4 linked regions of the Homo sapiens genome follow. The protein of the gene in region 4 interacts with the protein of the main gene of each other region in a pairwise test. Each region holds a gene or a part of one and is shown on either strand. Other genes may lie near its edges.

Evidence for each region.
Region 1: the proteins of MPP1 (region 4) and ACER1 interact in binary tests that used the Homo sapiens proteins (3 or more experiments, as listed by UniProt).
Region 2: the proteins of MPP1 (region 4) and DGAT2L6 interact in binary tests that used the Homo sapiens proteins (3 or more experiments, as listed by UniProt).
Region 3: the proteins of MPP1 (region 4) and AGPAT3 interact in binary tests that used the Homo sapiens proteins (3 or more experiments, as listed by UniProt).

What each region holds. Positions count from the first base shown.
Region 1 is NC_000019.10:6,330,593-6,338,415, reverse strand, and holds the start of ACER1 (alkaline ceramidase 1), read left to right. Parts: upstream 1-4,803; 5' UTR 4,804-4,864; coding exon 4,865-4,957; intron 4,958-7,823. UniProt on the Homo sapiens protein: Endoplasmic reticulum ceramidase that catalyzes the hydrolysis of ceramides into sphingosine and free fatty acids at alkaline pH.
Region 2 is NC_000023.11:70,194,453-70,201,486, forward strand, and holds part of DGAT2L6 (diacylglycerol O-acyltransferase 2-like protein 6), read left to right. Parts: intron 1-4,818; coding exon 4,819-4,929; intron 4,930-5,359; coding exon 5,360-5,430; intron 5,431-5,802; coding exon 5,803-6,007; intron 6,008-7,034. UniProt on the Homo sapiens protein: Diglyceride acyltransferase that uses fatty acyl-CoA as substrate. Particularly active with oleate as a substrate. Has no wax synthase activity to produce wax esters.
Region 3 is NC_000021.9:43,861,252-43,868,222, forward strand, and holds the start of AGPAT3 (1-acyl-sn-glycerol-3-phosphate acyltransferase gamma), read left to right. Parts: upstream 1-3,971; 5' UTR 3,972-4,094; exon of another isoform or gene 4,095-5,414; intron 5,415-5,887; exon of another isoform or gene 5,888-6,071; coding exon of another isoform or gene 6,072-6,095; intron 6,096-6,971. UniProt on the Homo sapiens protein: Converts 1-acyl-sn-glycerol-3-phosphate (lysophosphatidic acid or LPA) into 1,2-diacyl-sn-glycerol-3-phosphate (phosphatidic acid or PA) by incorporating an acyl moiety at the sn-2 position of the glycerol backbone.
Region 4 is NC_000023.11:154,778,152-154,781,487, forward strand, and holds the end of MPP1 (55 kDa erythrocyte membrane protein), read right to left. Parts: intron 3,163-3,336; coding exon 3,088-3,162; intron 1,203-3,087; coding exon 1,026-1,202; 3' UTR 533-1,025; downstream 1-532. UniProt on the Homo sapiens protein: Essential regulator of neutrophil polarity. Regulates neutrophil polarization by regulating AKT1 phosphorylation through a mechanism that is independent of PIK3CG activity.

The sequences.
Region 1 (7,823 bases), on a different chromosome or scaffold from region 4:
CATTCATGTGTTAGACAATTTTCTTTTCATTTTCTCAGAAAAATGGGAGCAAATCTATGCAATAATATCACATGTATAGATCTGTGCAAACACAACCACAATTGTAACACTTACATTTATTTTGGCCAGGGCACAGTAGCTCATACCTGTACTCCCAGCAACTTGGGAGGCGAAGGTGAGAAGATTGCTTGAGCCCAGGAAATTGACATTGCTGTGAGCTAGGATTTTACCACTGCCCTCCAGCCTAGGAAACGGAGCAAGACTCCATCTCTTAAAAAATACATATTTATTTTATTATTTTATTTTTATTTTATTTAATTAACTATTTTTTTTTGAGACAGGGTTTCCCTCTTTTTGCCCAGGTTAGAGTGCAGCGGTGGAATTAGAGGTGTAAGCCACTGCACTGGGCCAAAATATTATTTTAAAAAGAAAATTCTGGGGCTGGGCGCGGTGGCTCACGCCTGTAGTCCCAGCACTTTGGGAGGCCGAGGTGGGTGGATCACGAGGTCGGGAGATCGAGACCATCCTGGCTAACATGGTGAAACCCTGTCCCTACTAAAAATACAAAAAAATTAGCCAGGCGTTGGTGGTGGGTGCCTGCAGTCCCAGCTACTCGGGAGGCTGAGGCAGGAGAATGGCATGAACCCAGGAGGCGGAGCTTGCAGTGAGCCAAGATCGAGCCACTGCACTCCAGCCTGGGCGACAGAGCAAGACTCCATCTCAAAAAAAAAAAAAAAAAAAAAAAAAAAAAAAAGAAAGAAAGAAAGAAAAGAAAAGAAAAAGAAAAAGAAAACTTTGGCCAGGCAGGGTGGTCCACGCCTGTAATCCCAGCTACTCAGAAGGCTCAGGCAAGAGAATCGTTTGAACCTGGGAGGTGGAGGTTGCAGTGAGCCGAGATCATGCCATTGCACTCCAGCCTGGGGGACAGAGCAAACGCCATCTCAAAAAAAAAAAGAAAAAAAAAGGAAACTTTGTAACCCTACCGTGAATGGAAAGTAGATTTGGCTTACCATGAATACAAGCTTATCAAAAAATAAATACAATGTAAACAAATCATGTTACTAAATTCTAACAGAATATTGTTGCCTAATGAAGGGCTTTTCTTTTCTTTTTTGTCAAAGTCATTAAGTGTTAAGAGACATAGAACATATTAGCACTGACTGAGCCTCTCTTCTCCAAATATTGGAAATTGAAAAAGTTGATTACTTTCAGACACCACAGTGATTTTTTTTTTTTTTTTGAGAGGGAGTCTCACCCTGTCGCCCAGGCTGGAGTGCAGTGGTGCAATCTCGGCTCACTGCAACCTCCGTTTTCTGGGTTCAAGCTATTCTCCTGCCTCAGTCTCCTGAGTAGCTGAGATTACAGGCGCGTGCCACCACACCAGGCTAATTTTTGTATTTTTAGTAGAGACGGGGTTTCACCATTTTGGCCAGGCTAGTCTTGAACTCCTGACCTCAAGTGCTCCACCTGCCTCAGCCTCCCAGAGTGCTGGGATTACAGGGGTGAGCCACCATGCCCGGCCAGTTCAGTGATTTGGAATGCAGGGCAACATAGCACCACAATTTATCTTTCTTTTTCTTTTTTTTTTTTTTTTTTGAGTCGGGGTCTCGATCTGTCGCCCGGGCTGAAGTGCAGTGGCGTGATCTCGGCTCACTACTACCTCCACCTCCCAGGTTCAAGCGATTTTCCTGCCTCAGCCTCCCAAGTAGCTGGGACTACAGGCGCCCGCCACCATGCCTGGCTAGGTTTTTATATTTTTAGTAGAGACGGGGTTTCACCATGTTAACCAGGATGGTCTTGATCTCCTGACCTCGTGATCCGCCTGCCTTGGCTTCCTAAAGTGCTGGGATTACAGGCATGAGCCACCGTGCCCAGCCCACAATTTATCTTTTTATGGAAACATCGTGTCAGCTCACTAACTCTTCACAACAGGCTTGAGAGGGCAGTACCATTATCATTTTCACCACCTTACAGGTGAGGAAACTGAGGCATCATAGAGGTGGTGTTCCTTGCCTGTCTCTATCACTTCCTAACTGTGTGACCTATGGTAAGTTCCTTAACTTCTCTGGGCTTTAGTTTCCTTGCTAGTGATTACTAGCAGGAGATAGGATCGCATGAGCTCAGGAGATCAAGCAAGGCTGCATTGAACTATGATTGCGCCACTGCACTCCAGCTTGGGCAACAGAGCAAGACCCTGTCTCAAAAGAGAAAAAGAGGCCAGGCACAGTGGCTCAAGCCTGTAATCCCAGCACTTTGGGAAGCCGAGACAGGTGGATCACCAGAAGTCACGAGTTCGAGACTAGCCTGGCCAACATGGTGAAACCCCGTCTCTACTAAAAATACAAAAATTAGCCGGGCATGCTGGCGGGTGCCTGTAAATCCAGCTACTTGGGAGGCTGAGGCAGGGGAATCGCTGGAACCTGGGAGGCAGAGGTTGCAGTGAGCTGAGATCATGCCATTGCACTCCAGCCTGGGTGACAAGAGTGAAACTCTATTTCAAAAAAAAAAAGAAAAGAAAAAGAAAAAAAAGAAAAAGAAAAGGGATAACAATAGTTCCTGGCGCTTAGGATTTTTTCTTTTTTTTTTAGACAGAGTCTTTCTCTGTCACCCAGGCTGGAGTGCAGTGGTGCAATTTTGGCTCGCTGCAAGCTCCGTCTCCTGGGTTCATGCCATTCTCCTGCCTCAGCCTCCTGAGTAGCTGGGACTATGGGCACCCACCATCACGCCCAGCTACCTTTTTTGTATTTTTAGTAGAAATGGGGTTTCACTGTGTTAGCCAGGATGGTCTCAATCTCCTGACCTTGTGATCCTCCCGCCTTGGTCTCCCAAAGCACTAGGATTACAGGCGTGAGCCACAGCACCCGGGGTAGGATTGTTAAGAACATTAAATGAAGGCCGGGCACAGTGGCTCACGCCTGTAATCCCAGCACTTTGGGAAGTCGAGACGGGCAGATCACAAGGTCAGGAGTTTGAGGCCAGCCTGGTCAATATGGTGAAACCCCGTCTCTACTAAAAATACAAAAATTAGCTGGGCATGGTGGCAGGTGCCTGTAGTCCCAGTTACTCAGGAGGCTGAGGCAGGAGAATTGCTTGAACTAGGGAGGTGGAGGTTGCAGTGAGCCAAGATCATGCCACTGCACTCCAGCCTGGGAGACAGAGTGAGGCTCCATCTCAAAAAAAAAAAAAAAAAAGAACGTTAAATGAGATAATACTGAAAATCAAGCACTTAAAAAAAGAAAAATTATATAATATATAATATTAATTATTATATTAAATTATATTAATCACATTAAAATAATATACTAAAATATTTAAAATATTATATAACAATAGTATTTTTAATATAATAATTTTATATTTTAATATAATATTGCTATTATATAATAAATAATTATATTATTATTGTTATGCACACTTGCTAACCGCTTGCTAAGGCCAGGCTCTTTTATTATAATAATAATAATTATTATTATTCCCACAAAGTTGACTTAAAGTTCAAGGTCAGCTTCAGTAAGAAAACCCTGTAATCCCAGCACTTTGGGACAGAGCAAGACTCCATCTCAAAAAAAAAAAGAAAACCCATTACCATCCATCAAGTGCCTACTCTAGCATAGGCAGTGGGCTAAGCCTTTGTACATGCTTTATCTCTGTCTTCCTTTGTTACAGTTGGCTCTGTCACCATCGTCTCCATATGACAGGTGAGCAAACAGAGGATCAGAGAGGTAAATTCACTTGCCCAAGGTCACACAGCTTAAAGTAGAGGAACTCAGGCCAGGTGAGGTGGCTCATGCGTATAATCCCGGCACCTTGGGAGGCCAAGGTGGGCAGATCACCTGAGGTCAGGAGTTCGAGACCAGCTTGACCAACATGGTGAAATCCTATCTCTACTAAAATACAAAAAAAATTAGCTGGGCATGGTGGCAGGTGCCAGTCATCCCAGCTACTTGGGAGGCTGAGGTAGGAGAATCGCTTGAACCCAGGAGGTGGAGGTTGCAGTGAGCTGACATTGCGCCACTACACTCCAGCCTGGGTGACAGAGCCAGACTGCATCTCAATTTTAAAAAAAAAGGCCGGGCACGGTGGCTCACGCACACCTATAATCCCAGCACTTTGGGAGGCCAAGGCAGGTGGATCACGAGGTCAGGAGATCGAGACCATCCTGGCTAACACAGTGAAACTCCATCTCTATTAAAAATACAAAAAATTAGCCGGTCGTGGCGGTGGGCGCCTGTAGTCCCAGCTACTCGGGAGGCTGAGGCGGGAGAATGGCGTGAACACGGGAGGCAGAGCTTGCAGTGAGCTGAGATCATGCCACTGCACTCCAGCCTGGGCAACAGAGCGACTCTGTCTCCAAAAAAAAAAACAATTAGCTAGGCATGGTGGCAGCATGTGCCTGTGGTCCTGGCTACTTCAGAGGCTGAGGCAGGAGTATTGCTTGAGCCTGGGAGTTTGAGGCTGCGGTGAGCTATGATGATGCCACTGTACCCCAGCCTGAGCAACAGAGCAAGGCCCTGACTCTAATAAATAAATACATACATACATAAAAGATAAAAACAGTTCCCTCCACTGCCCCCACCCCGATTCCTATTCCTGGGTAATCTGGATGGGAGGCCTCTTCCCTGCCTACTTCTGCCCCCTGCCCTGCCTGGACAGTGCCAGTCCCACGGCTTATGCTCAGGGCTGCTGTCACTGCACAGCCAGGCTGCCCTGGTGCAACTGGGGAGCGGCCCAGCAGGTTTTTCCTCCCAGTCTGCCTGCCGCGGGGCACCGGGCTGTCCTCTCCCCGCCTCATCAGGGCCCAGCCTTCCCAAGCTCGCCTTCTCTCTGCCGGGCGCAGCCGGCTGGTGGTGGCCACTGAGACAAGATGCCTAGCATCTTCGCCTATCAGAGCTCCGAGGTGGACTGGTGTGAGAGCAACTTCCAGTACTCGGAGCTGGTGGCCGAGTTCTACAACACGGTGAGTGCGTGGGTGTGTGAAGGAGTCTCGCCAGATGCCGGTTCGAATCCCGGTTCCTCCCCATACAGCCTTACTGGGGAATCTTGCTGGAGTGGTTCACCTGTCTCAGCCCTAGTTTTCTCATCTGTTAGCCAAAGAGTGCCAGCTTTCATTCATTTACTTGTCTTTACTTGATGCCAAGCTCTGTGGTAGGTTTTGGAGACACATTGGTGGCCAGGAAAAGAACCGGTCTCTGCCTTCCCTAAGCTAACTCTGATGTGACTGCAGGCATTTGCAACCGGGAGCGATGGTGCCTTCTTGGAGGGCACAGAGGCAGCTGTGGTAGGGGGAGGCAGAGGGTGCCCCTGAGCTAGAGGGGGTGGGCCAATCAGGAAAGGCTTCCTGGAAGAGGTGATTGTGTCTGTCTTGTTTGCAGCTGTACCCACTGACCAACTTGTCCCAGTGTGCCTGGGACTATCCTGGTTTCAGTATTTAAAAAGTTTCACCTCTTGGCTGGGCGCGGTGGCTCACGTCTGTAATCCTAGCACTTTGGAAGGCCAAGGTGGGTGGATTGCCTGAGCTCAGGAGTTGGAGATCGCCCTGGGCAACGTGGTGAAAGCCCATCTCTACTAAAATAAAAAATTAGCTGGGTACGGTGTCAGGCATCTGTAGTCCAAGCTACTCAGGAGGCTACGGCATGAGAATCGCTTGAACCCAGGAGGCGGAGGTTGCAGTGAGCTGAGATTGTGCCACTGCACTCCAGCCTGGGTGAAAAAGCGAGACTGTCTCAAAAAAAGAAGAAAAAAAGTCCCACCTCCTGAGAAACTCCTCAGTTCTGGACATTCTGAGGTGGTCTTCTCTTTCCCTGTTAAAACACCACATGGGAAGTGCTAAAAAATCATGGATGTACCTAGCACCATGGCTCATGCCTGTAACCCCAGCAATTTGGAACGCAGAGGCAGGAAGATCGCTTGAGCCCAGGAGTTCCAGACCAGCCTGGGCAACATAGCAAGACCCTGTCTCTACAAAAAGTTTTTAAAAATTAGCTGGGTGTGGTGGTGTGTGCTTGTAGTTCCAGCTACTTGGGAGGCTGAGGGGGGAGGATTTCTTGAACCCAAGAAGTGGAGGATGCAGTGAGCTGAGGTCATACCACTGCACTCCAGCCTGGGTGACAGAGGGAGACCCTGTCTCAAAAAAAAAAAAAAAAAAAAAAGGCCGGGCGCGGAGGCTCACGCCTGTAATCACAGCACTTTGCGAGGCCAAGGTGAGTGGATCACCTGAGGTCAGGAGTTCGAGACCAGCCTGGCCAACATGGTGAAACCCCATCTCTACTAAAAATACAAAAATTAGCCAGGTTTGGTGGCAGGCACCTGTAATCCCAGCTGCTTGGGAGGCTGAGGCAAGAGAATGGCTTGAACCCAGGAGGCGGAGGTTTCAATGAGCCGAGATCGCACCATTGCACTCCAGCCTGAGGGACAAGAGCGAGACTTCGTCTCAAAAAAAAAAAAAAAAATAGGAATGCACAAATGATCACGGCATTTAGCCAAAGCTTAAAGCCAAAGATCAGTGCAGCTATGCCATGCCCATACTGGGTGCTGGGAACACAGAGGTGTTTGCCTGGAGCCCTGGGAATGATGGGATCCAGGCATAGTGCTTAGTTCTTTTGTTTGTTTGTTTGTTTGTTTTGAAACGGAGTCTCGCTTTGTCACCTAGGCTGGAATGTAATGGCGCGATCTCGGCTCACTGCAACCTCTGCCTCCCGCGTTCAAGCCATTCTGCTGCCTCAGCTTCCCGAGTAGTTGGGATAACAGGTTCCCACCACCACGCCTGGCTAATTTTTGTATTTTTAGTAGAGACAGGGTTTCACCATGTTGGCCAGGCTGGTCTTGAACTCCCGACCTCAGGTGATCCGCCCACCTCAGCCTCCCAAAGTGCTGGGATTACAGGCGTGAGCCACGGCGCCCGGCCTCGTAGTGCTTAGTTCTATGCCCTGCACATAGGCCTTGCTCAGTGAGCAGAAGAGTGCTTGCTGGCTGGGTGCTATGGCTCACGCCTGTAATCCCAGCACTTTGGGAGGCCGAGGGGGGTGGATCATGAGGTCAAGAGGTCAAGACCATCCTGGCCAACGTGGTGAAATGCCGTCTGTGCTAAAAATACAAAAAATTAGCCAGGCATGGTGCCGGGCGCCTGTAGTCCCAGCTACTCAGGAGGCTAAGGCAGGAGAATCACTTGAACCCGGGAGGCAGAGGTTGCAGTGAGCCAAGATTGTGTCACTGCACTCCAGCCTGGTGACAGAGCGAGACCTCATCTCAAAAAAAAAAAAAAAGTGCTTGCTGTGTACCAGGCATGACCCTAAACATTTTACGTGAAACACCTCCTTTAATCTGCACAGTGACATGGGGAGTTAGATGCAATCTATATGATACAGACTTCATCCCATTTTCCAGGTGATAAAACAGGTGTTCAAGGAGTTTGAAGGCTGTGCCCAGGGTCACCCTGGTTATTAGAGCCAGGATTTAAACTTGGTGAGTCCAGGAGACTTTTCTGGGAGGAGAGTCCGAGGCTCAGGTTGCTCTGACCCTGTTGCCTTTCACCCCGGGGCTTCCCATACCTGGGAAGTGGGATTATGAGACTCCAGGATCCTCACGGTCTCACTGATTCTTGCTCTTCCTTAGCCAGAGATATGGTTCCCGGTCCTCAGTAGTCCCACCTCTAACATGGGAGGGAGCTGAATGATTGGTCCTACGAGGCTGAGATGATGGGTAAGGGCTCTAGAGCTCTTCTCTCTGGAATCCCCAGCAGCCACTGTGGTCCAGTGTTCTGTTTTCATCCTGCACCCAGATGAGAGCCCTTGCAGAAGGCACTGAGAGGCTGGGTATGGTGGCTC
Region 2 (7,034 bases), about 85 Mb from region 4:
AAACAAAGCTAGAGGCATCACACTTCCTGATTTCAAACTATATTACAAAGCCATAGTAATCAAAACACTATGGTACTGACATAAAAACAGACACAGAAACCAATGAAATAAGATAGATAGCCCAGAAATAATCCCATGCATTTATAGTCAACTAATCTTTGAAATGGGTCCCAAGAATACACAATGGGAAAAGGATAGTTTCTTCAATAAATGGTGTTGAACTAGACATCCTCATGCAAAATAATGAAACTAGACTCTTACCTTATGACATACACAAACATTAACTCAAAATGGATTAAAGACTTAAATGTAAGACCTGAAATCACTAAACTCCTAAAAGAAAATATAGGGAAAAAGCTCCTTGACATTGGCCTTGACAATGATTTTTTGGATATGACAACAAAAGCACAGGCAACAAAAGCAAAAATAAACAAGCAGGAGTACCTCAAACTAAAAATCTTCTGCCTAGCCAAGGAAACAATCAACAAAATGAAAAGGCAACCCACAGAATGGAAGAAAATATTTGCAAACCATATCTCTTATAAGGGGTTAATCTCTAAAATATATAAAGAACTCATACCACTCAATAGAAAAAAATAAAATAACATAAACTTTTTAATAGGCAAAGGACTTGAATAGACATTTTTCCAAAGAAAACATACAAATAGCCAAAGGGTATATGAAAAGGGGCTCAACATTATTAGTCATCAGGGAGCTGCAAATCAAAACCACAGTGAGATATCACCTTACACCTGTTAGGATAGCTATTATCAAAAAGACAAATGGTAAGTTTTGGTGAGGATATAGATAAAAGGGAATCTTTGTACACTGTTGGTAGGTATGTAAATTGTTACAACCAGTATGGAAAATAGTGGGGAGTTTCCAACAGTAATGAAATTAGTGTCTTGAAGAAATATCTGCACCCCCATGTTCACTGCAGTATTATTAGTAATAGCCAAGACGTGGGATCGACCTAAGTGTCCACTGGCAGATGAATGAATAAAGAAAGTGTCACACACACACACACACACACACGAATATTATTCAGCCATAAAAAGGAGATCCTGCCATTTGCAATAACATGGATGAACCAGGAGGATACTATGCTAAGTGAAATAAGCTAGACACAGAAAGAAAAATACCATATGATCTCATTAGAGCTGGATGTGGTGTCACATGTTTGTAATCCTAGCTACTCAGGAGGCTGAGGTGGGAGCATCACTTCAGCTCAGGAATTTGAGACCAGCTTGGGCAGCACAGAGAGAACCTGTCTCTAAATATATATATTTGTAAATAAATGTAAATTAAATTCATAGAAGCAGAGAATAGAATGGTGGCTGCCAGGAGCTGGGGCAGAGGGAAAATAAGGAAAAATTTGTCAAAGGGCACAAAATTTCAGTTACAAAAAGAATAATTTCTGGGAATCTAAAGTATAGCAGCATTAATAATACTGTATTATATGCTTGAAATTTGCTGAGTGGATCTTAAGTATCCTCACCTCTAGCCACAAACACACACAAAGGGTAACTATGTATGGTGGTGAATGTATTGATTAATTTGATTGTTGTAATCATCACACAATGTATACCTGTCTCAAATCATCACATTGTGCACATTGAATATACACCATTTTTATTTGTAAATTATACCTCCATAAAACTGGTAAAAATGAACTTGAAGTGTATTGTAGATCTAAATGTAAAAAAAGAAAACTGTAAAATGTTTAGTAGAAAACACAGGGGAGGTCAGGGGCAGTGGCTCACACCTGTAATCCCAGCACTTTGGGAGGCTAAGGCAGGAGGACCACTTGAGACCTGGAGTTTGAAACTAGCCAGGGCAACATAGCAAGACCCTGTCTCTACAAAAAAATACAAAATAAATTGGCTGGGTGTGGTGGCATGCTCCTGTAGTCCCAGCCACTCTGGAGGCTGAAGTGGGGGGATCGCTTGAGCCCAGGAAGCGGAGGTTGCAGTGAGTTGAGCCGAGATCACGCCATGGAACGCCAGTCTGGGTGACAGAACCAGATCCTGTCTCAAAAAAAAAAAAAAAAGAAAGAAAAAAGAAAAAAAAAGAAAAAAGAAAGAAAGAAAAGAAAAGAAAATATAGGGGAAAAATCTTCATGACATGAGGTTAGACAAAGAGTTCTTTCAGTTTGACACCAAAAGCACAATCTATAAAAGAAAAAAAATTAATAAGTTGGGCTTCATCAATATTAAAAGCTTTTGCTGTAAAAAGGACCCTGTTAACAAGAATGAAAAGATAGACACAGATTAGGAGAAAATGTTTGCAAATCACATATCAGACAAAAAAACTTATATCCAAAATGCATAAAGAACTACCGAAAGTCAACAGTAAGAAAACAACCCAATTGAAAAATGGGCAAAAGATTTGAATGGACACTTCACCAAAGAGGATATACAGAAAGCAGACAAGCACATGAAAAGCTGTTACGCATCACTAGCTATTGGAGAAATGCAAGTTAAAATTATGATGAGCTACCAATGCGCATATATTAGTTTTTTTTTCTTCTTTTTTTTTCTTTTCTTTTCCCCCAGTGCACATATATTAGAATGGCTTGGCCATCTTCACTACAAACTAAATTAGGAGCCTACCTATGTGAACTTCCTCTTTGATAACCCTCTCCAAGACGCCTCACTTGAACGTGACAAGAGAAATTGGAACCATCTTCTGGTGTCAAGGCCATAATACCTAAGGGAGTGTCACACATACATAAATGCTTGTTCTTCATCATTCCTTCTTCAGATACCCTTGCTTTATGTCACGGAACTCTTTTTACATGAGACTTAGCTCTTCCACATTTGGCTTCTATTTCTCCTATATCTTTAAATTCCACTTTTGTTACCGTGCACGACACTGATGACACTCGGGCTGGGTCTGGAAGCCTTGCTCTGAAAAAAACGTTCCTCGTCTCCTGCCGGGTCATATCTGCAGTTCCAATAGGTTCCACAAGGGGGATGGTGTTACCCAGGTAAGGGCTCTTAGACCGCCTTTAGGACTGGTGGATGAATGAATCAGATAAAAGGCACACAACTAATCCGTCTATGCTTTTAAAATAACATCACATTTAAATAACACTATACATGCTGACTAAATAGTAATTATCAAGTTTACTACTGAAAAGAGAAAACATTTGCTTATTTCGTTTTCAATTGGTCTACAGATATTTGTTGAACACCTACTGTGTGCCAAGCTCTCTTCTAAATACTGGGGAAACAAACAAAATTTATTTGAAACAAAATATAAAAGAAATGATACACTTAGGCTAACTTTAATTAGTGATTATTCTTATTTAACTTTATCTGAATTTCCTTCTGAAGCTTAACTGGCAAATTTACTCTCCTCTTTGATGAAGGGCATAGATAGCAAGGCTTTTTCTCCATGGCAGGCTTCCCATAAAACTCCTCCCACCACGCTTTCCTGTCTAATTTGAATGCTTACAACAACTATCTCGACCAGTGCTTATGAGGGCAATTCAGCCTATTACAAAGGTTTCTTCTACTCCATAACATGACTTTTTAAAGCACTGTCCACTCAGCCTTTTTCCTGCTATTTTCATTTATGTCCAAAATGCAAGAGACAAAGAACTGGTAGGTAACTCCCGAGTTTCTTCTTCCCTGAAACTTTTATCTGCTATGACATGGTACCTGGTCAAAGAAGTCATTCCCTTAGCTAAGTCTTTTTTTATTCACCATATGTATACTTAGCCCCTCTTTCTCATGAATGCAGATTTTTTAAATGGAATTCATTCGCACTGCTGTAACATGTATCGTGTTTGCAGTTACAGCCTGCTATGGCCATTTGCTAACACAGACTTCCCCTTCTGAACCTTTGTGATACTTTTGAATGGAACAAAATGAACACAGTAAAGTGTTTTTTGTTGTTGTTGTTTTGTTTTTTGTTTTTTTGGTTTTTTAGAGATACTGTCTTGCTTTGTTGCCCAGGCTGGTCTCAAACTCCTAGGTTCAAGCTGTCCTCTCACTTTGGCCTCCCAAATTGCTAAGATTATAGGAGTGAGCCACCGCACCTGGCCTAGTAGGGCAGTTTTGTTGTTGTTGTTGTTGTTTGTTTTGTTTTGTTTTGTTTTTTCAAGACGGAGTCTTGCTCTGTTGCCCAGGCTGGAGTGCAATGGCACGATCTCAGCTCACTGCAACCTCCACCTCCTGGGTTCAAGCGATTCTCCTGCCTCCACCTCCCGAGTAGCACTCCAATCATGTGCCACCATGCCCGGCTAATTTTTTGTATCTTTAGTAGAGATGGGGTTTCACCGTGTTAGCCAGGATGGTCTCGATCTCCTGACCTCGTGATCTGCCTGCCTCGGCCTCCCAAAGTGGAGTGGTTTTTAATCCGTGTTTACTTTTCAGCATCAAACAGCCTGTACACTGCGGGTAACCTCCCTGCTGGAATATGCAGACTTATCAGTTCAGCACAGGAAAGAGGGTCAAGCTTTTAGAAAGAATTTCCAGAGGTCCCAGAATGGGGATTCAGCTACCAGCCCAATGTGCTCTTCTTCCCATTCACCAAGCCGTGCTGTCCTTTGACCTCAACTTCATGGTTCTGCTCTTTCTTCAATTGAGAGTTTGGCCATCAAGGAGACCCAGATCCAGGGGCTTCAGAGGCCTGCCTAGACCACAGCAGAGACAAATGGAGGGCGAGGGGTTGGGGAAGAGGGGAGAAGGAGAGAAGAGTCCCACATCAGCCTAGCCCTGCTCCTGTAGTGTAGAGCAGAGGCCGGGGTTATGAGAAGTATACTAAAACTTGAAGGGAACTGAAAGGCTTGAACCCTTTGTGTCTCCCCAGGAGCTATTCCCATTCTCCTTATACCCTACTTTCTGTTATTCAGTAAGTTCTGGCCCTTGGCTGTGCTCTCCTTAGCCTGGCTCACCTATGATTGGAACACCCACAGTCAAGGTAAGAGACAGGGGCACAATGGTGGTCCTGTTTGGGCCAAGAATGGAAGGACAGGGAGAGGGAGGTGGAGGGAGAGGGGGAGAACCAAGGGTAGGGGAGAGGGGAAGGAAGGGGAGGGAGAAGGGAGAGCAAAGCTCAGCAGGGACAGAGGTCTCTACCAGGTAGCTCAGGAAGAATTATGAGGTTGAGGTCTCTGGGCAGGTGCCCCCAGCTTCAGACTATTTTCCTGTCACCTTTCTGGTCGGCTCTAGAGGAGCAGGGGCTTCCTATGTCTTGGGGATTGGATTCAGGGACAGTACTTACAGTTCTGAGGTGTCAGAAGGAGGCCCCTCACGTGACCTGAGGACTGCAGGCAGAACTCTCCTCCTCTGGGAGAGGTAGAGGGACTGCAATGCCCTGTGTACTCTTCCCTTCCCTTCTGTACCCACAGGTGGCAGGCGTTCAGCTTGGGTACGAAACTGGACCCTATGGAAGTATTTCCGAAATTACTTCCCAGTAAAGGTGACCACTCTTCCTCGGGGTGCCCTCAGTCCCTGTTGCCCAGACCCTTGCTCCCTACTCAGCTCCATGTTTTCAGAGGCTTTGGTGGTCAGCAGCGAAGGTCAAGGCCCCGAGTCATAATGCAAAGCAAGGGCCCAAGATGGATGGGCAGGTGGGGAAACAGGTGGATGGCAGCCTTTCCTTCACTGGCAAACCCAGGTCAGCCTCTCTGACCATCGTGAGCCCTGGCAATCCTATGACAATGATGACAACCTAGTGAACAGGGATTTGGGGCTCCCAGAGGGAAACATAGGCTACCTGCTGGGATTTTAGTCCACACGTGGTTTCTTCCTTCTTTGTAGCCAATGCTCTGACTCAATTTCCCTCTAACAGCTGGTGAAGACTCATGATCTTTCTCCCAAACACAACTACATCATTGCCAATCACCCCCATGGCATTCTCTCTTTTGGTGTCTTCATCAACTTTGCCACTGAGGCCACTGGCATTGCTCGGATTTTCCCATCCATCACTCCCTTTGTAGGGACCTTAGAAAGGATATTTTGGATCCCAATTGTGCGAGAATATGTGATGTCAATGGGTGAGTATAAGAAATAATTAATTCTATTTTTTTACCTACTTCAAAGGTGCAACCCCAATAAGTCCTGACAATCACTACCTGCTTGAAGAGTACATGATAGAAAATAAGTCCAGGACACCCTGGGCCCGTAACAGGAGTATGTGGCTAAGCATTAGTTTCTGTCCAAGATCTAGGGAGCAGGGTTTGATTGGGCAGCAGGGGAAATTATAGGCATTCATAGGAGTCACCAGGACTTTTTTCAGAGGGAGAACCAGAAGGCTGGAATTCAGGACCAATGCCAAAGTGCAAATCGAGGATGAAAGCCAAGAATTAAACACAAATCCAGGGAAAAGCAGGTGTGAATGGGATAGCTCAGGCGAACTTCACCAGGCTCTCTCTAGGATGTCAGCTGGCCTCTTTGGGCCGGTCATTTGTACACCATGGTGTCTTAAAAACATTTTGAAGTCTATCATACTAGCTAAAACCCTCCTGGTCCATGACTTTTATCTCCCTGGAACCCCTTCACACTTGCATAAAATACTAAGGGATAAAGGATAGGAGTTCATCAGAGTATCCAGAACAACTTCCCCATGCTCAGCTTCAAGTCAGGGCACTGTGACAAATGTCTCTCTCTCTGGACAAATAGTCATCCTTCTGGACACCAGAAAACAACTGAAGCCAAACATCCAAAGGTAAGATACATTTCTGTGGAGGGGCCAGGTGGGACCACTAGAGTCCCAGAGGATGCTTCTACTCTGCTCTGAGGTTAGCATGGCCCTGGAGCAGGAATACTTCTCAATGGCTAGAGTCTGGAGGCAATTTCTGCCATCACAGTAGACAATAGAAGGTGAGCGCAGGGCAAAGATGGGAGACAGAAGTGAGAAAGGCTAGATGATTGTTGTTAAACAACAGGGTGTCATTCACATTCCATTATTCATCTACGTTTCAGTTTGGCTTGGTCAGGCTCAGGGGTCTGCCTACTCTCCAGAAACCCCAGCCATTGGCTTCCCTTTGGCAGGTTACTCTTAGGGAGGAAGCAGGTTGGTGG
Region 3 (6,971 bases), on a different chromosome or scaffold from region 4:
AGAAGAATTGCTGGAACCCAGGAGGCGGAGGCTGCAGTGAGCCAAGATCGTGCCACTGCACTCCAGCCTGGGCGACAGAGCAAGTCTCTGTCTCAAACAAACAAATAAACAAAAAAACTACTTTTCTTCTTTTCATTCCTAGCAAAAATCCCCTCTCTGGACAAATACTACTCAAGGTCAGAATCTCCCTTTGCCCCCAGTTTTTCATTGAGGAGGCTGAGGATCTGAGTCTCTCTCTTTTTTTTTTTTTTGAGATCCAATCCAGTCTCACTCTGTTGCCCAGGCAGGAGTGCAATGGCATGATCTTGGCTCACCACGAGTCTCTTTCTTAATAACCAACCCCATTACCGGGTCAGGAGAAGCTGCTGCGCTGTGGCTGCATCAGGGCCTAGAGCCGGGCTGCCTGCCTCTGCTGCCCTGTGTGCTGGCGGATAAGGTAGGGAGGTTTGTTATGCCTCAGTTTCCTTAAAGGTAAAATGGGGTGTCAGTCGTCTCTACCTTGTGGCCTGGTTTTGGTTAATGAACTAATCTACACACATAACAAGGGCTCAACAAAGGTTAGCGATGACGTTTCCTGCCAATCTGAGCACCTGCACACTGGAACCCTGTAAACAGTTGAGGGTGGGTGGCTGACTTCCAGTTCCCTTCAAATGCTTCTCTGAGTGTCTGCGCACCTGCGGCTCTCCAGGGGCTCGACTCAGGTCTCAGTGATCACAGATTCTAATGAAGAAAGGGTCTGTCTCTGTCATCCAGGCTGGAGTGCAGGGGGCACGTTCATGGCTCACTGCAGCCTCGACTCCCACCTAAGCCTCCTGAGTAGCTGAGACTACAGGTGTGCTGGACCACACCCAGCTAATTTTAATTTTGTTGCCCAGGCTGGTCTGTCAGTGAAGTTTTACACCAGTGAGACAAACATAATATTTGGGGCTCATCTAAAAGCTCAAAGTGAGGCTGAAGGAGCCATCCAATGTTTAAATGAAGAGGTACATCATAATTCATTTTTAATAAGTATGCAGAGCTGGGTGGCTCATGCCTCTAATCCTGGCATTTTGGGAGGCCAAGGTGAGAGGATCGTTGAAGCCAGGAGTCTGAGAGTGGCCTGGGTAACAGAATGAGACCCCATCTTTACTAAATAAATAATAAATAAATAAATAGCTGGGCGTGGTGGTGCATGCTTATAGCCCTAGCTATTTGAGAGGCTGAGGTGGGAGGATCCCTTCAGGGATCCTGCAGTGAGCTATGATCATACCACTGCACTCCTAGCCTGGGTGACGGGGGGACACCCTTTTTCTAATAGTAATAATAAATTATAAAATATATAAATTATAAAATGTGTGCTTATGATAAATCTAAACATTACTACCTAACATACATAGAAATTTTATTGTAATAAAATTTCTTTACCCTTGCCCATTCACTATCATATCTTCACAGAGCCTTCTGGACTTGTATCTGCCTATGTTGTTTTCTGTTTTTTTTTTTTTTTTATTTGTTTGTTTGTTTTGAGACAGAGTCTCGCTCTGTCGCCCAGGCCAGAGTGCAATGGCTAGATCTCAGCTCACTGCAACCTCTGCCTCCCGGGTTCAAGCAATTCTTCTGTCTCAGCCTTCTGAGTAACTAGGATTACAAGAGAGCACCAGCACGCCCAGCTAATTTTTGTATCTTGTTTTAGCAGAGGTGGAGTTTCACCATGGCTGGTCTGGAACCCCCGACCTCAAGTGATCCACCCGCCTTGGCCTCCCAAAGTGCTGGGATTACAGGTGTGAGCCACTGCATCTGGTCTTTTTTTTTTTTTTTTTTTTTGAGATAGAGTCTCACTGTGTCACCTAGGCTGGAGTGCAGTGGCACAATCTTGACTCACTGCAACCTCTGCCTCCCAGGTTCAAGCAGTTCTCTGCCTTAGCCTCCCGAGTAGCTGGGATTACAGGCGCCTGCACCACGCCAGGCTAATTTTTTTTTTGTATTTTTAGTAGATACGGGGTTTCACCATCTTGGCCAGTCTAGTCTTGAACTCCTGACCTCGTGATCCACCAGCCTCAGCCTCCCAAAGTGCTGGGATTACAGACAGGTGTGAGCCACCGTGCCTGGCCATTTTTTGTTTGTTTGTTTGTTTTAAATAAAGCACATCATTGTATATTCACTGCTCTGCACTATTTTTATTTTTTAATTTAACAGATCTTGGAGACTATATCCTATCTGTGTACACAGAATTATCACATCACAACTTTAGAAAATGTTTTAAATTAAAAATGCTAAATGAATGTTCTAGAGTTTATTTAACCAAGTGTCTGGTTGTTCTCAGGCTTCCTGTGATTATAGGTATAGCTGTAAGTCAGCACATCCCTGTATCCACACATCCCGTGGTGCCTGTGAGAATTTATCTGTGGCACAGATTACCCAAAATGACATGAGGGGTGAGAGGTTTTACAAATGGTGAATTCCACGAGCTTTGCAAATCTTAACTCCTTTTTCAAGAATAAGGGAACTGTGAGTAGGACAGGTGCACGGTACTTTCATTTTATTTTAGTCTAAGTATTTTCTGAAATAATTTGAGGAGGCTTAAAGGGAGGTGCAAGCTGGGTGCGGGGGCTCATACTTGTAATCCCAGCACTTTGAGAGGAGGAGGTGGGAGAATACTTGAGCTCAGGAGTTCGAGATCAGCCTGGGCAACACCGTGAGGCCCCATTTCTACAAAAAAAATTTTTTTTAAATTAGCCAGACATGGTGGTGTGTGCCTGTGGTCCCAGCTACTTGGGAGGCTGAGGTGGGAGGATCACTTGAGCCCTGGAGTTCAAGGCTTCAGCGAGCTATGATTGTACCACTGCACTCCAGGGTGGGCGACAGAGCAAGACCCTGTCTCAATAATAATAAAAATAAAAAAAAAAAAAAGGAAAAAAAGGGGCACAGTAGACAGTACCAGTACTTGGTATTTTAAATGGTTTTCAAATGAAGCCCACCCAAGCTCAGCAAGTCCAGCCGGGGCCTGAGGACCTGAGCAGGCGCCAGGTCACACAAGGTACCGGGCGCAGGAGGCGGAGCCCGCAGCGGGCCCTGCCCTGACAGCGGCACCTGCGCGGCCTCCGCAGGTTCTGGGATCGGCCGCTGGCCAGGTGCAAGGGAGGGGGGACGGCAGCCGCTGTCCTGGGGCTGAGAGGGCTCCGCGGTCTGGAGGGGACGGCGTCAGCGCCCGCGGGGGTTCGCAGGGCAGCCCCGGGGCGACCCCCACCCCCGCCACGGTCAAGTGTCGATACAGTGTTGCCAGCCGGGTGCCAACTATGAATAAGTCCAAGGGCGCGGCACGTGGGCCGAAACGCGATCCTTCCGCGGAGCCGCTGCGCGCAGGGCCGTCCCCACCGAGCCCGCCGCGCGGCGACCCCTGACGGCGACCCTAAGCCCCGGCCGACCAGGGCAGGAGCTCGCGCGCGAAACTTCCCCGGCGCCCGCAGGAGACCCCGGCAGGGGAGATGGCGGGGCCCAGGCAGAGCTCGGAGGCCCCTCCCGGCCCCACCCCGCGCCCCGGCCCCCTCTGCCCCCGACCCGGTCCGGGGGAGCCCTCGCGGGACCCCAGCCTGGTCCTTCGCCGCCTCCCCCCGTTCAGCCCCGACCCCCCTGATCCCCGCGCCCCCCGCGGTCCCGGCCCGCCCCCTCCCCCAGCCCGGGCCCCAGCCCCGTCCGTTAGCGGATCCCACGCAGGCTCCGCGCCCGGCCCCGCCGGCGCCCTCGGCCCACACCTCTCTCCGCGCGCGTGTCCCGCCGTGTCGCCCCCGTGTCCCCTCCGCGTCCCCCCCCGCGCCGTCCCCCCGCGTCCCCCCCCGCGTCCTTCCCCCGTGTCCCCCCAGCGTGTCCCTCGGCCGCCCCGCGCGCGCCGGCGGAACTGTGGGATCGCCGCGCACAGGAAGTGGCGGCGGCGGCGCGGCCGAGGGCGGAGGGCGGAGGGCGGCGGGATGGGGGCCGGGGGCGGCGGGCGCCGCACTCGCTGAGGCCCCGACGCAGGGCCGGGCCGGGCCCAGGGCCGAGGAGCGCGGCGGCCAGAGCGGGGCCGCGGAGGCGACGCCGGGGACGCCCGCGCGACGAGCAGGTGGCGGCGGCTGCAGGTGAGCACCGAGGCCCCCACCCGAGGTCGGGCCGCCCCCCTCTTCCCCCACGCCCCGCCGCCGCCCGAGGTCGCCCTCCCGCCGCCGGAGGTCGCCCCTGCCCCAGCCGTCCGACCTCGGGCCGCCCGGGGCCCCGCGCCGCAATGGGCCGGCCGCGCTCCGCGGGGCGCGGGGCCTGGGAAGGCGCGGGGCCGGGAGGAGGTCTGGGCCCGGGTCCTGTGCGCCCCCCGCAACCCCGGCCTCCCCGGCGGCCTGGTCCAGCGCGAGGCCCCGGCCGCTTCCCGCAGCAGCCTCGGTGGCGCTGGGCCCAGCGGGGAGGCCCGGGGGTTCGGGGCGCCCGGGAGGGGCCCGGGCCGGGCCGAGGGAGGGCGAGTGGGTTCCCGCGGGGACGTCCCATCCCTCCGTCCTGGACTCTGCTCCGGGCCCCGCTCGGCTCCCCCGTGGACAGGACGCGCCCGCCGCCTGGTTTCGGGGCGCGGCGGACCCGGGACCCCCCCCAGGGGCCTCCTCCTCGCGCGCCCAGGCCAAGGGAGCAGTTTCACTTTTGCCGCTCCGCGCGGGGAGGGCTGCGGGGCCCGGGGTTGGCTGTGGGTTCGGCCCGGAGACCGGCGGCGCGTTTGCACCGGGCGGGTCAGGGGATGGGGTCAGTCCGGGGGCAAGAGCCGTGGGGGCGAAAACCCACTCCTGGCCACCCCAGGACCCTTGGAACATTGGTCCCAAGTACTTAGGAAAGGAGGGTTATTAGTATTTGAAGGCAGTTAAAAATGGTGCAGTGTTTTTTTTTTTTTTTTTAACTTTGAGAGAAGTTTAGTGACATGGGGAAAATGCTTTTATAAATGGCTTCCCAGACCTTTAAAAAAAAAAAAGCACAATTTTAAAAGCTTTGTCTAGGAGAATACTTGAGCAGTTGGGTTCTTTTTCCTGGGAAACATGATCTTAGTAGAAGAAAGATGTGGGCTGTTGGCCTCCAGACAGAGGGTGATGAGCATGCGGCTCTTATTAAAAATGAAAGCCAACGCCGAGAGCCTGCTGGGGGCTGGGAGGTGGGGCGGGCGGCGGGCCCAGGCTGCTAGAGGGACCCAGGATCCTGCAGCTTTTAAATTGCAGGCGCGGCTGCTCCGACTCGACTCGCTTAGGAATTGCTGAACTTCGTCTTCTCAGTTTGAAAGCTTCAGAGGGGTCTCCCGAGGATGCTGAGCACTCTCTTGATTTGGCCACTTCTTTGCCGCCCCCCCTCCCTCTTTCCAACCAATCCTCCTCCCCCACAGAGTTCGGCGTTAGCCTGTGCCTGTTACAACTCGCTTCTTGTATCCATTTCTGGTTAGTCTTAAGTATCTTCTTGAGGACATTGTCTAAAAAGCAGCTGCATGCCATTGACATTCAGACAGAACAGGGCCCCTTGGCCTTAGAAGGTGTAGGGGCCTTAAATATTCTGAAGGTGACTTCATGGAGTGGCCGCCCTCTGTGGTCACCCTACCTGTGCGTGGCCCTGTCCTGGCGTATCTGCCAGGGGGACGCGCTGCAGCAGCCTGAAGACTGCTGGGTTAAAGGCAGTGTGGCCGGGTGGGAAAGTCCCCAGGAGTGTGGATTCTAGAACAGGCCTTCCTGGAGGGAGGGTGCTGCCCCGCCCCAGGCTGGGGCCCCAGTGCAGACTCCACGCTGGGGAGCTACACCCTGCGCCTGGACGCGCGTCTGTGTGCCAGGACTGGGGAAGCAAACTGAAAGTAATGGCTTTATTTTGGAAATTAGAAAAAGAGCATTCACCAAAGTAATCTGTTCCGTCCCTGCCGTAGACACGTGACTGATACACCTGCCTCCCATCCCCTCCGCACTTTGACCTCGTAAACAAGTGATCTGACACAACAGGGCTTGAGTTACTTGCCCGAGGTTGTGTCACGGAACGGCAGGGCCGCCTTTAGGCTTACATCCCTGGAACTCCCACCTCCACAGACCCGTCCGGGTGCTGAAAGTCCACGGATGCTATCCCTGGTCAAATCAGAGGTAGGTGGGAAATGTTGGAATTCTCCTAAACAGGGAAGGGGAAGATCAGAATGTGTGTTTGAGAAGAGCCTGATTTCCTGGATTCCTTTGGAGGAGGGGTGTCCTTAACTTGCCCAATCACATTTACCCTGTTCATCAATCTTCAGCCCCGCTTAGGCTCTCACATTGCAGACCCCACGGCAGAGCCCCTAGTGCTTGGCACTGAAGAGCCAGTGCAGGCCCGTTGTCACCATCAAAACCCACCTCTGGTAAATTCAATGGCTTCTGCTTCCACGCTTTGCCCCCCCTCTCTGGCCTTGTCAAAAACTCTTGTGATGTCCCTGTTATAAGGTATCGCCGGTGGACTGGTGTTTCTAGATCGCAGCGTGGGACGTGATTGGCTACATTTGACTGTTTCCTTTTTAATGACTTGTTTAATGTGAGATCTTTAGCTGCTCCATCTCATTGCAAGATTTTTGTTACAGTAAAGTTGGACTGAGTTTTCTAAAGACAGTTGCTCAGAAATTTCATGGGAATTTACTTTTGGTTAACCGAAGAGTGTTTGGGGTTTTAAACGGGTCGTTTCAAGTGGTAAAGTAACATGACCACGAGGCGTCTGTCCTTCCTAAAACCACTTCATCATAATTTCAAGATTGATTCTAAATTACCAATTTCAAAGCGCTGCATTTTAGGCAAGTGCATTAATCGTTCACCTTCTGACAGGCTTTCATGTAGTCATTTACAAGCGGCCATGTTTTGATTATCTTTGTCAAGCAAAGTGCAGGAGACAGGCAGTCTCATAACCTTGGGGCAGTGTCTGTGTTTAGTTTTGGAGGCGGGAAGGCCGAGTTGATGGTGAAAGTTGGCCATTCTTTCTGCAGGGCCAAAGTCTGTACC
Region 4 (3,336 bases):
GGCGTGTGCCTGTAATCCCAGCTACTCGGGAGGCTGAGGCAGGAGAATCCCCTGGAACCTGGGAGGTGGAGGTTGCAGTGAGCCGAGATCCTGCCACTGCACTCCAGCCTGGCAAAACAGACTGTCTCAAAAAAAAAAAAAAAAAAAAAAAAAAAAAAGCGCTCTTGGATGCAGCGAGGCGAGGCCCTGAGCTGTAGCCATATCATGAGCCAGGCATGCAGGGTGGGCCCCAGCCCTGGCTCAGCGACCGGCCTCCACTGTACCACGGGACCCCAGGCTTGGATTTTCTCTCGTTCTAAATATGTGCCCACAATGAGCGCTCCACTAGCTACAACAACCTTAAGGGTGTTTTTCTACATGGGCACTAGCCAGTAGAGCCCTGCAGTGGGGGCAGAGAATGGGGACTCTTCCAGGGCACCAGTGTTTATCATCTGAACACAAGAGAGGCATCTTGTGTTAATGCTGTTGTCCAGGAGCTTAAGTGAAATGGGCCACATTTCTTTTTGTGTGGAAACCCAGAGTTACAAGGTCATTGGCATTTCAACACAGCATTTTTATTGCTTTTGAAGGTTTCCCTAGAGCAGACATCATTCTATTGCACAGATGTGTCATTTTGGCATTATAGAAAGTTGCAGTTAAAAACGCTTTCTCCAAAATAAAAAGACAAATGAAATACCCAGCATATACAGTTGAAGGCAAAGGAGGGCAGGCTTTAGAGGGATGGGGTCCATTGCTTTTGCTGTGCATCACCCTTGATTAGCAGTTACATTTTGGTAGTACTTCTTACCCCCAATTTCTAGAAATCCTTTTCAAATCCAGATCAGTGGGGCCCCATCTATCAGGAGAATCAACCCTTCAGGAGCCTGAGCAAGAAGACTGAACCTTACTGGCTGAATTAGGATAGCTGCAGAGAGCTGGAAGCTGACACAAAACTAGTTGGAGCAGCCCTGTTTGTCTTAAAGCAAGGCGGGTGGAATTCCAAATGCTGGAGAGGGGCATACAGTGGGTTCCCCCATTCTACAAGCTTAGTAAACCCAGGAGACAGGCACCCACTGTGGAGAACTGCACGCTTGGTCGAAGGCTTCTTGTAATTTCTTAAGGGTTTCATCAACACCATTATTGACCAGTGAGAGGTCAAAGTAGTGAGCGTACTGGCTGCGGATGGCCTCAGAGTCCTTCTGCAGCTGCTGCAGGGCTTCTGTCTGCAAAGAAGAAAGCCACAGATGAAGCAAGCTGCACCACCCCCAGCCCAGAGAGGCCAGTGACAGATTTTAAACAGCAATTGTTAGCGTTGCTCAGCTGTGCATCATACTTGACGAGTCAAATTCAGAAGACATTGTGAAAGAATGTTAATGTAGGGCATGAAGAGGCAATCTCAAAAGACCATGGCAATTCTCAGAGGATCTCAAGCTAACCCTGACTAATCAGAGTCCTCTGGAGGACCAATAGCTATGCAGAGACAGCATGGACTTCACCAGCATCTCCCACTTAATGCCCTTTGAACATGGAAGAGCCATTTCAACAACCACCAGAGCTGCAATCCTAAAACGAAGATAAAGGTGATTTTGTTGTTTTGTTTTGTTTTGAGACAGTGTCTTGCTCTGTGGCCCAGGCTGGAGTGCAGTGGCACAATCTCGGCTCACTGCAACCTCCGCCTCCCGGGTTCAAGCAATTCTCGTGTCTCAGCCTCCCGAGTAGCTGGGATTACAGGCATGCGCCACCACATCTGGCTAATTTTTGTATTTTTAGTAGAGACAGGGTTTTGCCATGTTGGCCAGGCTGGTCTGGAACTTTAGACCTCAGGTGATCCGCCCGCCTCGGCCTCTCAAAGTGCTGGGATTACAGGTGTGAGCCACTGCACCCAGTCAGATAAAGGTGACTTCTAATCCCAGATCACACCTGTAATCCCAGCACTTTGGAAGGCCAAGGCAGGATGATTGCTTGAGCACAGGAGTTCAAGACCAGCCTGGCAACACAGTGAGACCCCATTTCTACAAAAAACAAAATTTAAAAATGTGTGTGTATATATATCTCAGGACTCTGTCTTTGACCTAAAACCAAGCAGCCATGAAAGACAAATCATGTAACTACATAAAAGTAAAAATGTCTGCATAGCAAAAAGACATGCCAAATTGGAAAAAAATTGCAGCTGATATTACAAAGGGCTAATTACCCTAATATAGACTTCCTATAAATCAAAGGTCAATAACTCAGCAGAAAAATGAGCTAAGGGTATGACCAGATAATTCTCAGAAAAGGCAATACAAATTGCTCTTCATATGAAAAAGTACCTGATCATCTCTTTTAGTAAAAAAGAAATATGAGATACTATTTTTCCCTCCAGTAGACTGGCAAAAAAAGAAAATTTTGACAACATGCTGCAGGCAAAGAGAAACAAGCAGTCTCACAGGTGGTTGGCGGTCCCTGTCCAAATTCTAAGTGTGTGTGCTCTTGGACCCAGTGATCCTACTTGGAGTTTTTCCTACAGATATATTTGCACACATGTGCTATATGCACAGGGCTATTGACTGCAGTATTACACATGCATGCAGCAGAAGACCAAGCAGCTATAGAGAAAAAGAGTTCCTCACACCCTGATAGGGAAAGGTGTCCATTGTTCAATGCAAAAGCACAGTGCAGCAAAGTGCATGGGTAGGGCTGGGCAGAGGAGCAGGGTAGGCTTTTTGATATATTCCTGGCCTCTCTGTCTTTCCCCACAGCCATACTGCACCCCAGGGCGGGTTCAGTGCCACCTCTGTCCATCACAGCTTCCCCTGCCAGAGCCTGCATCCCACCAGTATCAGGATCTGCTCAACTGTCCATCTCTGCCCCTGGAACTGTGTGCCTCCAGGACGATGACTGGGTCTGGTTTGTTTTGTCCCTGTTAGGTAGCATGGGCACTGGCCTAGCTAGTGGCTTAAGAGCTGGAACGAATGTGCATACCCTTTGGCTTCTTGGCCCTGGAGGAAGAAGCCCAGCTGGAGCTGTGACCTCCAGCCAGCACTCTGGCCAATGACCTGGACTGAGGTCCCAGTATGGGCAGGCCCGGAGAAAGTGAACTACCCATCGCGCACAACCTCTCCTCACCTGAGTGCCCTGGTCAGTAGGTGCAATGAACACAATGAAAGGCGAAAGTTCTGCTGTCCGAACAATTTTCAGGGTCTAGAAAAAAAAAAGAAGGGCGGCGGGGAGGGGGGGGAAGGAAGAAAAGGAAAGTGAAAAAAAAAAACCTACATAGCTGTCATAATGGATTCCTTCTAATAAGCAGCTTTGAGCTTTACCCCAATACAACTTTCCATCATTCCCAGTACTACTGTTCTTGTTCCAGGCTGACCC